Linked DNA regions of Homo sapiens. The gene in region 1 interacts genetically with each later gene. Each region holds a gene or a part of one and is shown in the gene's direction. Other genes may lie near its edges.

Region 1 (3,721 bases):
CACACCATATATTAATCAAATACTCTTATTTGGGTTGGGTTTCTAGAGGGAAATTTCAGTTTGACTTTTCATTTATAATTTTTCCGTTTGGTTCTAAACCTATAGGGGACATTACATTCAGTACACTTCATTTTTAAAGAATATGTTGCTTAACAATAATTCTAGATCCTGGGATTGGATATCTATCAGATCCCACTCATATCTCCACAGTGTGAAATTAACAAAAAGATATAGTTAAATACTCAGTCTCTATTTAGACCGAATAATTGTTTTTCTCAGCTGGACACATTTTCCAGCCATTCGGTTTTTGCCTGCCTTATGTATTTAGGTGATTATTCTTCTAGGTTTATCAAGAAACTGAGGAGTACCTTTTTAGGATTGTTGCTGGAGGCTGTTGAAACATAGACTAGCTTCAAATTTGAGAGTCAGATTGATTGATAAAATATATCTCATGCTGTTACCGCTGAATAAATGACTTTTGCTGGTAAAGTAGTATGCTTTTAAAATAATATGAAAAAATTCTGAATTAAGGTTAGTAATTTACACTGTAATTGATTTTAGGTGTTATTATATTACTTGCTAATAAGATTTTTTTTTCTGGGAATAGAAGCTTATAAAAATTTAAAATATGTTTAATTTTCTATATAGCTCCATCAAGTATGATGGTGAAGGATGAATATGTGCATGACTTTGAGGGACAGCCATCGTTGTCCACTGAAGGACATTCAATTCAAACCATCCAGCATCCACCAAGTAATCGTGCATCGACAGAGACATACAGCACCCCAGCTCTGTTAGCCCCATCTGAGTCTAATGCTACCAGCACTGCCAACTTTCCCAACATTCCTGTGGCTTCCACAAGTGAGTTCTAGAATCAGATGTAGTCAGCAAGTTGAGTTTTCCTAATCATTGCTTATTTATGTGTAGTCACTTGGGGGGAAACTCCAAGTAAGTAAACATTAAAAGTAACTGTAGTATCTTTCATAGGTAAACAGGTATTAAACAGGTATGCACAATCACTTGGAATTTAAGTAATGGCTTTGATTATAATATTGATTTAAATTAATGATCTGATTTATACTTTACTATTACATGTAGCAGTAAGTAGCCTCTTAAGCTCCCAGATATATTTTGGAGAAATATTTAAATAATTAACAAGTAGTTTTGATCCAAGATGTTTATGAAGGTCTGTGTTAATGGAATTGCAACCTTTCTTTTAATGCGGTGTTCTTATTTTGGTTTTTCTGGGACAATATTACCTTATAGTAGTTGTCTGATTTTCTCACTGTGCAAAGGGATCTTGACAAATTTGTTATATATTGCTCAAGATAGACATTAATTAAGTCAATTTTGATATAAGCTAACTTCTATATCTCTTTTTAAAATATATGTGTAATTAAAAAAAAAAAGTGTTTCAGAAAGATCCTTCTTTTCTGCCATGTCATAGGAGGGAGAGGGGCTGCTAGGTTCAGGTTTTTGGGGGCATGATCATATGACCTGGTTCTGTTACTTATTTTCACAGTAACCAAAGGTTTGATAGTTTGCTGCTTGGCAAATGAAGTAGCTTTTTTTTCATTTTTTTTTTTTCAATTAATCATAGAGCATTGTCTTGGCATGTGTATGGTGTTAGTTGCATGCAGTTGCTAAAGGAATTTATGTAAACCCACATCAGAATAGATTTTTGACAGCTCTGGGCTAATACTGTGTTAGTTGCTACCGAAAGTACCATTATTGTATTTGCTTTACTATCAGATTAGATTCAACATAGAAATTTTGATCTTTGGAATAAATGGGGGACTGATTTCTGTAATTGTGAGTTTTCAAGTGAAGTATACCAGAATTTCCCCTTTAATTCATTACACCACTTCAAAGCAACATGTTTTTGGTTTGCTATCTAAGAGATGACAGTCTCACTATAGGCAGCATATTCTAAATGGGTCATATAGGTTAAGCACTTGAGAACCCAGTTCCTTAATCACTTGGTGCTTCTATTATCTGTCTACTTTTTATTTACCAAATTAGGAATATGGTTGACAAACAGTGGGTAGTGATAGAAAATAAAAGAAGGTACATTATAGCCACTTGAACGTAGATTAGTGCTAGAGCACAGCTACCTACTTCTGTTTATATTATCTGGAGATTGAATTTCTGTGCCTTTGTCAATGCTTACTAAAGTGACTTCATTTTGACTGTGTTGTTTCCTGAGGTTGAATCCTATTCAAAGATTAGAAAAAGTGATAGAAATGAAATGCAGCTAATTTTATCCTGGTATTTATTGGGTAGATTTTAATAATCGAATACCGTAAATACTGTAAGTTTTAGAACTTGTGTCAAAATGTTCCCTTATGTGGTGGCATGCGCCTGTAGTCCCAGCTGCTCCGGGGGCTGAGGCAGGAGAAATGGCGTGAACCCGGGAGGCGGAGCTTGCAGTGAGCAGAGAGCGAGTCACTGCACTCCAGCCTGGGCGACACAGCGAGACTCCATCTCCAAAAAAAAAAAAAAAAAAAAAAAAGAGGGTTCCCTTAGGTCTCAAAAAGTATATTGATGAAAAGAAGTTGAACTAAAATAGAAGATTTGAAAGGCTATTTTACGTGAGCTGATTTAGTCGTATTGTTTAACTTTATTTTACATACTTAGAATTGTATAAGGGAAGTATTCAGTATGGATAACTACAGTGAGTCACTTTACAATTTATGTTCTTTTGACACCTGAATATTTTAAGAATTTCCTTTTAAATACCTGTAAATTAAAATAATTTATCCTGTGTAGTTAATGACAATTTTTGTAAGTTAGCTAAGAGTATTGCCTGTAGAATTGTTAAAAATATGAACAAAACCATAATTAACCTTTAAAGATAACTTGCAGAATCTGGGGGATGAGTAGGAAGGGAGGTTGCTAAAATGTCATTTTTACAGATAAATAATTTGGGGAGTATTGAAATATTCTCTTTAGCTTTTGGTTTTGTAATTCTTAGCTTTAAGGAAATGTGATATGTAAAGAAAAGAAAAATATTCCTTTTCTTTGATACTTTGAGCAATGGTGACATGTTACTCTCTTCCATCTGATTATACTCCCATTTAGAAAAGAATGAGGTGATGCCAGTTATAAATAATTATAACTTTAGTGCTTTCCAAATAGGATTAACAGTCGAGTTAATTAATGCTCTTTAAGAAACCAAATTTCCACTTTAAAAAAAAAGCCTTAAAAATGTAGGACAGTAAGCAATATCATAGGATGGTTTTTGAATAGAATACAAGCCAAGAGAAGCTTGATTCTCTTGGTATATTACATACAGAGAGGGCAATTAATTTCTTGTACATCTGGGAATATGATGGTGTTCTTGAAAAGAAATGATTCTTGGTTTATAAAAGCTCTTGAAAAAATTTGAAAGTAGACTGATAGTTTTTTTGTTTGTTTTTAACCAGTAAATGGTATATTGATTGGACAGCAGAGCTAGATCTTTTTAACTTCCTCATCTTCACTATCACATCCTATTTAAAATAATTTTCTGCTCTGCTTTTCTCTGTCAAACCCTAGCATTCTGCCATTACTAGTATCAGTGCTGATAGTGATTAATTTTTCAGTTTTCAACATTTTCTTGAGCCTGGATTTTTGGGGTCCTAATCAGAAAGGTCCAGAGAGAGAGGTGGATGGAGTGGCCAGGATGAACTGACATACCTCTGAAGAAGTTAATATGATAGGCCAGACGTACAGTGGTGTT
Region 2 (3,960 bases), on another chromosome or scaffold:
TGCAAAATGGGTTAGTGATCCTGACTATGGGGCTGTTGATTCAGGATTCGGCGGGAACGCCCAGCACTTCCTGAGTACACAAGAGTGCTGAGAAAATGGTAGCTGTTTTTTGCGATTACTGACTCGGGGCCCGACCAGCTCTGGCACGACTCAGCGGAGGTGGGAGTCCTGCGGGTCCCATCCCTGCCTCCCGGAGAGCCAGACCCCAGCGATAGAAGGCCCGGGCGTTGCTTGCTCGTCGCCGCTAGTGCCGCCGCGCCCCCTGGCGGCCGTCGGTTGCCATGTCAACGGAGGGTGGCGGGGACCGGGGGAGGCGGAGGCGGGGGCCGTTCTCTCCTCCCAGGGCCGGAGGACGCTCCCTCCGCGCCTCCCGCCTTCGCCTCTGTGGGGGCACTCCGAGCCGGGGAGGAAGGGGCTTTCCGCTGCAGCCGACATGTGGGGGTAAACTGAGGCACGCGGCAGGGCGCCCGCAGCCAGGTGCCGAGCGCGGGGCCCCACCTCCGAAGGCGGAGGAGGGGCCGCGGGCGGTGACGCGCCGAGGGCGGCCGGCGGACAGCGAGCGGGCGGGCGGTGGCGGCGGCGGCAGGTGCGGCCGCGGAGGGTGGGAGGGAGGAGGGCGGGGGCGGGCGGAGGAGGAGGGGAGGGCGAGGCCGGGCACCTCCCCCTTTATAACGCGCCCCCTCCTGGGCTCTCGGGCCGTCTCCTAGTCGGCTCTTCCCGTCTCGCCCCCTCGCCCGGCCGCCCCGGGCCCGGGTCCGGCCAGGGAGCTCCCAGGCCGCGGCTCGGGGGCTGACCCCCCGCCCGCCGCCCCGCGCAGCCCGGCGGAGGCGGCGCCGTCGGAGGAGGAGGAGCAGGGCACTGCGGCTGGCCCCGGATCGGGCGCCAGAGCGGCAGCAGCTTCGGCAGCAGCGGCGGCCCGGGCCCATGCAGCGGGACGCGCCACCCCGAGCCCCAGCTCCGGCGCCCCGGCTCCCCGCGCCCCCGATCGGGGCCGCCGCTAGTAGTGGCGGCGGCGGAGGCGGGGGCAGCGGCGGCGGCGGCGGAGGCGCCTCTGCAGCTCCGGCTCCCCCTGGCCTCTCGGGAACTACAAGTCCCAGGGGGCCTGGCGGTGGGCGGCGGGCGGAAGAGGCGGGGTCGGCGCCGCGAGGCCGGAAGTGGCCGTGGAGGCGGAAGTGGCGCGGCCGCGGAGGGGCCTGGAGTGCGGCGGCGGCGGGACCCGGAGCAGGAGCGGCGGCAGCAGCGACTGGGGGCGGCGGCGGCGCGTTGGAGGCGGCCATGGCAAAGCAGTACGACTCGGTGGAGTGCCCTTTTTGTGATGAAGTTTCCAAATACGAGAAGCTCGCCAAGATCGGCCAAGGCACCTTCGGGTAAGGCTGGGCCCCTCGGGGCCGGGAGCCCTGGGCCTGCACCCCTAGGGCCGACGTCGGGATGCCCGGGCCCCCCCCGAGTTGGTAGAGAAGTCGTCTGTCCCCGGGCTTGCCTGCTGGTCTCTAGGCCGCGCCGCACCCCGCCCCGGCCTGACGGAGCCGGCTGGTGGGGAGGAGCCTGAGGCCCGTGGTGGGGGCGGGGAGGGGCTGCAGAGAGGCGCCCGTGAGGGGAGCGGGATCTCTCCAAGGGACGCCCAAGTGAGGAGAAGGGACTGAGGGAAGGAAGCAGAGGCTCCGAACGAGACAGGCTGCCGGGTGGCGGGGTAGCCGCGTGCCCTGGGTACCTAGCCCAGCCCCGCCCGGGAATCTCTTTGCTGCTGCCCCTCCTCCTGTAGTGGGGGAGGGGCGGGCCCTGCGGAAATGGCCTGATGAGTTCTCGGGTCTCCCTTTCCGCCTGCAGGGAGGTGTTCAAGGCCAGGCACCGCAAGACCGGCCAGAAGGTGGCTCTGAAGAAGGTGCTGATGGAAAACGAGAAGGAGGGGGTGAGTACGGATCGGGCGTGCGGGCCGGCCGGCTAACTGCCCGGGACCCCGGGTCGGTTTTCCACCCTGCTGCTTCTGGGAGTCTCAGGTTGAGATTTAATTTTTTTGTAGTAGTTCAGAAATTTCCAGGGAATGTGGCTTCCACCCTAAAACTAAATGTTTCATTCTTAGGCAGTTATGGGTGAGGCCAGGAGGGGGAGTTGATGCATGCATCGTGTGCACTTTATTTCACGAAGTTAGGAAGCCTTTAAACACCTTTTTTTAGTGTTAAATTTCGCTTAATGTAAAAGAAAGATTATATATGCATGCTTTTTGAAAGGTGTCTGATACTCAATTATTTAATGTATTTAAAAGGAGCGGTCCCTTCTCCACCCCATCTTAGCTCTAGTACAACTTCCCATAAACCTTCTTTTGCGTAATGTGCATTAGCAAGGACATTTTTAAATCATCATGTTTGTTGCCAACGAAACAGCCATAGAGCTGAAATTTGAAGACTGAAACCGCCGAGCGTTTAGTGGCTAATAGCAAAGTATTGCTGTTTCAGTTTGTTGTCTCAAACCATCATCTTGAAGTGTGCATGCTACTAATATCCATTTTATAGACAAGGCTTCTGAGACAGCTGGTTTCAGAGCCCATGATCTTGCTCTGTCTCCCAACTTGGCTGTCAGTACAGACCCCAGGGCTGGGCTCTGTACTGCGCTCACTCTTGACCACTTTCCCCTCTTTCTCACCCAGTTCCCCATTACAGCCTTGCGGGAGATCAAGATCCTTCAGCTTCTAAAACACGAGAATGTGGTCAACTTGATTGAGATTTGTCGAACCAAAGGTAAGTTATTTGGTTCTTACGAGAAGATGACACTTGTAGCCTAAGGTTTTGTTTGTAAACTTGGAACTAGGCACACCTAAACTGCCTCTTCTTAACTCAGATGGACCCATGGTGACTGCTTTTTCTGGTCCTCTTTCATCGTAGCTGGTGCTTCCTCGGGGCCTGCCCTGGCCCAGAAGAGGCACTCAGAAAATATTTGACCGGTGAAGGAAGGAACAGACAGATGCTCTGGAGGGCATGGGTGCCCGTGGGTTGGAGCAGGAAGAAAGAAGCTGGTTGTGGGAAAGTGTGTTGGGTGTGGTTTTCTTGACTTTTTCTTCTTTCTATTCCTGCCTCAGCTTCCCCCTATAACCGCTGCAAGGGTAGTATATACCTGGTGTTCGACTTCTGCGAGCATGACCTTGCTGGGCTGTTGAGCAATGTTTTGGTCAAGTTCACGCTGTCTGAGATCAAGAGGGTGATGCAGATGCTGCTTAACGGCCTCTACTACATCCACAGAAACAAGGTGGGGGCCAGAGCTGGGAGGAGGACCCAGGCTTGGGCTGGTCTTGGCTCCCACTCCCGGGTGGATGTCACTAAAGGACCCACTCTTGCCCTTCCTGCAGATCCTGCATAGGGACATGAAGGCTGCTAATGTGCTTATCACTCGTGATGGGGTCCTGAAGCTGGCAGACTTTGGGCTGGCCCGGGCCTTCAGCCTGGCCAAGAACAGCCAGCCCAACCGCTACACCAACCGTGTGGTGACACTCTGGTACCGGCCCCCGGAGCTGTTGCTCGGTGAGGACTCCCGAGCGGGCCAAGGGGGGTGAGGGCCAGGCATCTACCTGGCCCCTTCCCCCCAACTGCCAGGGCTTCTTGAGCTGCCGGCCCTGGGGCATTGAGCCTCAGGAGGCCCTCGGGCTCAAGGGGCCCTCCTGGTGCGCTCTTCTTCCCAGGGGAGCGGGACTACGGCCCCCCCATTGACCTGTGGGGTGCTGGGTGCATCATGGCAGAGATGTGGACCCGCAGCCCCATCATGCAGGGCAACACGGAGCAGCACCAACTCGCCCTCATCAGTCAGCTCTGCGGCTCCATCACCCCTGAGGTACGGGGCCCCGGTCCCCACGGGGTGCAGAGATCGAGGTCCCCCGGCAGAGGAGGAGTGGGGAGTAGAATGGAAGGAGCGCTCCTCTCTGGAAGGGAGGCTGGTTTGGTGACAGGGCCTGTCTTGGGGTGGGGAGTGTGT
Region 3 (3,721 bases), on another chromosome or scaffold:
GATGGGGCTTGGGAGGTCCATCCTCTGCCTTTTTCTCTCCACTTCCACTTCTTCCCCTTCCCCTTGGGCTGTCAGTTCAGAATGCGCCAGGGCCGCTGGCAGGCCCAGAGATCCGGGTGTTCAGAGCCTCAGCTCCACCTCCTCCCTCCATCCTGTTCAGGAAGCCACTGTCAGCCCAAGATAATAACAGTTATGATACAGTTGCCATTTATTGAGTCTTTGCTATGTGCCAGGTAATGATTAAAGATTTTTCATGCATTAACCGATTTAATTGTTATAACCACCCTTTGAAGTAGGTACAGTTAGTATGCTCTTATGCCCATTTTACAGATGAGAAAGCAGAGGCAAGAGTGTCGCTAACACGTGTGTGTTCCAACAGGATCTGTCCAAAACCCTCCTGATGTACACGGTGCCTGCCGTCCAGGGCTTCTTCCGTTCCATCTCCTTGTCACGAGGCAACAACCTCCAGGATACACTCAGGTATCAGAGAAGGGAAGGATGCAACTCTGGTAGGCCATGTTAATGGCAAGACCTAGAAGTCACACGTAAAAGTCCTCTTTCCCTTCCTGACCCTGATCAGGACACCCAAGATCGATGTATGTGCCTTTTTTCTGCACTGCATTTAAGGAGTAACAGCTGACTGGGCCCCACCTGTGTGGGTGAAACCTACAGAGAGTGAGGAGGAGAAGTGGAGTGAGAACTCTCCATGTGTGGTTTATTATGGAGGGATTATTAACCCATCTGTTAATCACAATATTTCTTTTTTTCTGACCACCCTGTTGCCTATTGAAGTCACAGTATTTCTAAAATCCCTCAGCAACTTGGAGAGGTCTAAACAAATGACTCAAATCAGTTAACCCAGAGGGTAAAGGTGACAAGGTCCACATCCTCCTTCATTTGAGGATCTCCAGCCAGCTAAGAGCCAGGTGTCCCTGTTGCCTCTGCCGTACAGCGACTCTTACATGTGCAGACTTGTGGCTTTCTAAAGGTTATCCTGGCTCGTCTGTTTGATGTTTGCATACATGCCATGGTGACCCCTCGGTGACCTGGGATGAAATGCTCATTTGCTCAGGGTGACTCTTACGGTGTTCAGTCAAGAGCACTGCCACCCATCACAGACACCTGCTCCCATGGGAGGCCAAACACATTTGAGAGTTACTGGTTGGAGTCCCTGCCAGCTCTCTTCTCAGGAGCCTTAGAGATGAAAAACAGGCAGGCAAAAACTGGGAAACTAAATTTTCTGTGACTTTCTCATTTCTTTTTCAGAGTTCTCACCTTATGGTTTGATTATGGTCACTGGCCAGATGTCAATGAGGCCTTAGTGGAGGGGGTGAAAGCCATCCAGATTGATACCTGGCTACAGGTGAGGATACTTGGTTACAGGTGAAGGTGGCTCCAAGTCTCTCTTCTGTGTGTCTCCTCTTACAAGCATGCTGTGTTCAGTGTCACAAGGCAGTGTGTGTTAATACAGTGCTAAGGAAGTAGGGCTCGGTCCCAGTGTCAAGTGTCCATATTTTCTTTATTTTCTTTTAGAAACTAAAGGGAAGGGAATGAACCATTTCAGAGCATCAACCGAAACAAGTTAAAAGAATTGATCTTTGCCTAGAAGAATAACTAGTTGTTTCAAGTCTCATATGCTACATACTGTGTCTTTTTGAATACCAGGTTATACCTCAGCTCATTGCAAGAATTGATACGCCCAGACCCTTGGTGGGACGTCTCATTCACCAGCTTCTCACAGACATTGGTCGGTACCACCCCCAGGTATGTGGAGACTCTGGGCAGTTTCTCATCTAACCACTGGTTTGGTGGTCAGCCTTTCCAAAAGCTGCCCTGGCGACACAAGCGCAGGAACTGGGAGCCATGTGTTCCATCCTGGCCCAGGAGGGTCTGTCCAGCCAGCCGTCCCAGAGGGCCCGGGAGCCTTGCTAAAAAGAAAGCGTTCCCTCGAAGACTGAGCCCCTTCCTGGTAGTCTCAAGCAGATGTTAATGTCACACTCACCACTTGTTTTGTTATTCTCCTTAAAATTCATACCAGCTCTTCCCCAACCCACATTTCCTTTATAGATGTTTCTTCTGTTTTTCCCTCAGGCCCTCATCTACCCACTGACAGTGGCTTCTAAGTCTACCACGACAGCCCGGCACAATGCAGCCAACAAGATTCTGAAGAACATGTGTGAGCACAGCAACACCCTGGTCCAGCAGGCCATGATGGTGGGTCGGAGCCACTGTGGGGCTTCATAGACCCTGGTCCCTTAGCTGGTGGGCGCAAGTGGGATTGTTTTTCTTCCTCGCATTGGTGCTGTGCACTTCCTCTGACTGCTGGAAATAGTACCTCCTGTGTCTCCAAAACAGACCTTTCTGAGGTTAGCTGATTCTTGATGCTTCTCTCCTTCTTCTCTTGGCTTCAGGTGAGCGAGGAGCTGATCCGAGTGGCCATCCTCTGGCATGAGATGTGGCATGAAGGCCTGGAAGAGGCATCTCGTTTGTACTTTGGGGAAAGGAACGTGAAAGGCATGTTTGAGGTGCTGGAGCCCTTGCATGCTATGATGGAACGGGGCCCCCAGACTCTGAAGGAAACATCCTTTAATCAGGTATGGGGTAAAAAACACGAAAGGACATAACCCTGTAGAAATATTCTGCCACTAAAAAAAAATGAAATGAGAAAAGTTTTTATAGAATGAAAGGACGTGACCCAAGGCCTTTGTCAGATTTCTTTTCCTCTGGCCTTTCCACTGACTTTAATAAAACGAGCTCTGATGGAGGTCACAGAGCATAAAACATCAGAAATTAGTTACAGGGACCCTTCTGAATTTTAACTGGAAAAGCCCAAGATTTCTCAAGAGGTCATCTCGTCTCTCCTCTCACCCTTCCTTCCCTATAAGCCATGCTGCTGGTTTGGAAGCTCCAGGGTTGGAGGCCTGCACCTATGCTCTTGCTTTCTCCAGCCCCCTGCCAGTGTTTTCAGGCCACAGCGGGCTCCTGAGGAATATCTGCAGTCAGCCTGGGGATTTTGCCTCCTGGGTTGGTTGAGACTTTGATAACTTGAAAACGTGCCTGCTTTCTCTCTCAGGCCTATGGTCGAGATTTAATGGAGGCCCAAGAGTGGTGCAGGAAGTACATGAAATCAGGGAATGTCAAGGACCTCACCCAAGCCTGGGACCTCTATTATCATGTGTTCCGACGAATCTCAAAGCAGCTGCCTCAGGTAGGATCTTCAGGCTCCTGGCAGGGTTAACTGTCATTATAGTCCTTTCTGTTTTACTGTCTATGAATGTTCTAACACTCATTCCAAAGCATCTGGTTTTACTTCTGCTTTGGGACAAGTAATTGTTATTAGCAATCCACTGAAAAATACTTAAATTGCGTTTAAATTCTTCCCTGGAGGCAGAACACTAAATCCTTTGGTAATTATTTACAGCTCACATCCTTAGAGCTGCAATATGTTTCCCCAAAACTTCTGATGTGCCGGGACCTTGAATTGGCTGTGCCAGGAACATATGACCCCAACCAGCCAATCATTCGCATTCAGTCCATAGCACCGTCTTTGCAAGTCATCACATCCAAGCAGAGGCCCCGGAAATTGACACTTATGGGTAAGGACCATTGTGCACTTCTGTCACCCACTTCTCCCTCCTACACTGGCTGAGACCCCTTCCCTCTTCTGAAATTACTGCTTGCCATTCCCACTACTCACCTATCATAGCTACATCTCTCCCAT

The links.
Region 2: changes in SMAD4 (region 1) and CDK9 together harm fitness more than expected from each alone (negative genetic interaction), as found in Homo sapiens cells (one large-scale study listed by BioGRID).
Region 3: changes in SMAD4 (region 1) and MTOR together harm fitness more than expected from each alone (negative genetic interaction), as found in Homo sapiens cells (one large-scale study listed by BioGRID).

Annotation. Positions count from the first base shown.
Region 1 is NC_000018.10:51,054,133-51,057,853, forward strand, and holds part of SMAD4 (mothers against decapentaplegic homolog 4), read left to right. Parts: intron 1-648; coding exon 649-861; intron 862-3,721. UniProt on the Homo sapiens protein: In muscle physiology, plays a central role in the balance between atrophy and hypertrophy. When recruited by MSTN, promotes atrophy response via phosphorylated SMAD2/4.
Region 2 is NC_000009.12:127,784,874-127,788,833, forward strand, and holds the start of CDK9 (cyclin-dependent kinase 9), read left to right. Parts: upstream 1-1,160; 5' UTR 1,161-1,275; coding exon 1,276-1,367; intron 1,368-1,827; coding exon 1,828-1,909; intron 1,910-2,644; coding exon 2,645-2,735; intron 2,736-3,073; coding exon 3,074-3,240; intron 3,241-3,340; coding exon 3,341-3,512; intron 3,513-3,670; coding exon 3,671-3,819; intron 3,820-3,960. UniProt on the Homo sapiens protein: Protein kinase involved in the regulation of transcription.
Region 3 is NC_000001.11:11,126,497-11,130,217, reverse strand, and holds part of MTOR (serine/threonine-protein kinase mTOR), read left to right. Parts: intron 1-379; coding exon 380-480; intron 481-1,266; coding exon 1,267-1,363; intron 1,364-1,665; coding exon 1,666-1,764; intron 1,765-2,091; coding exon 2,092-2,214; intron 2,215-2,411; coding exon 2,412-2,594; intron 2,595-3,073; coding exon 3,074-3,208; intron 3,209-3,421; coding exon 3,422-3,596; intron 3,597-3,721. UniProt on the Homo sapiens protein: Serine/threonine protein kinase which is a central regulator of cellular metabolism, growth and survival in response to hormones, growth factors, nutrients, energy and stress signals.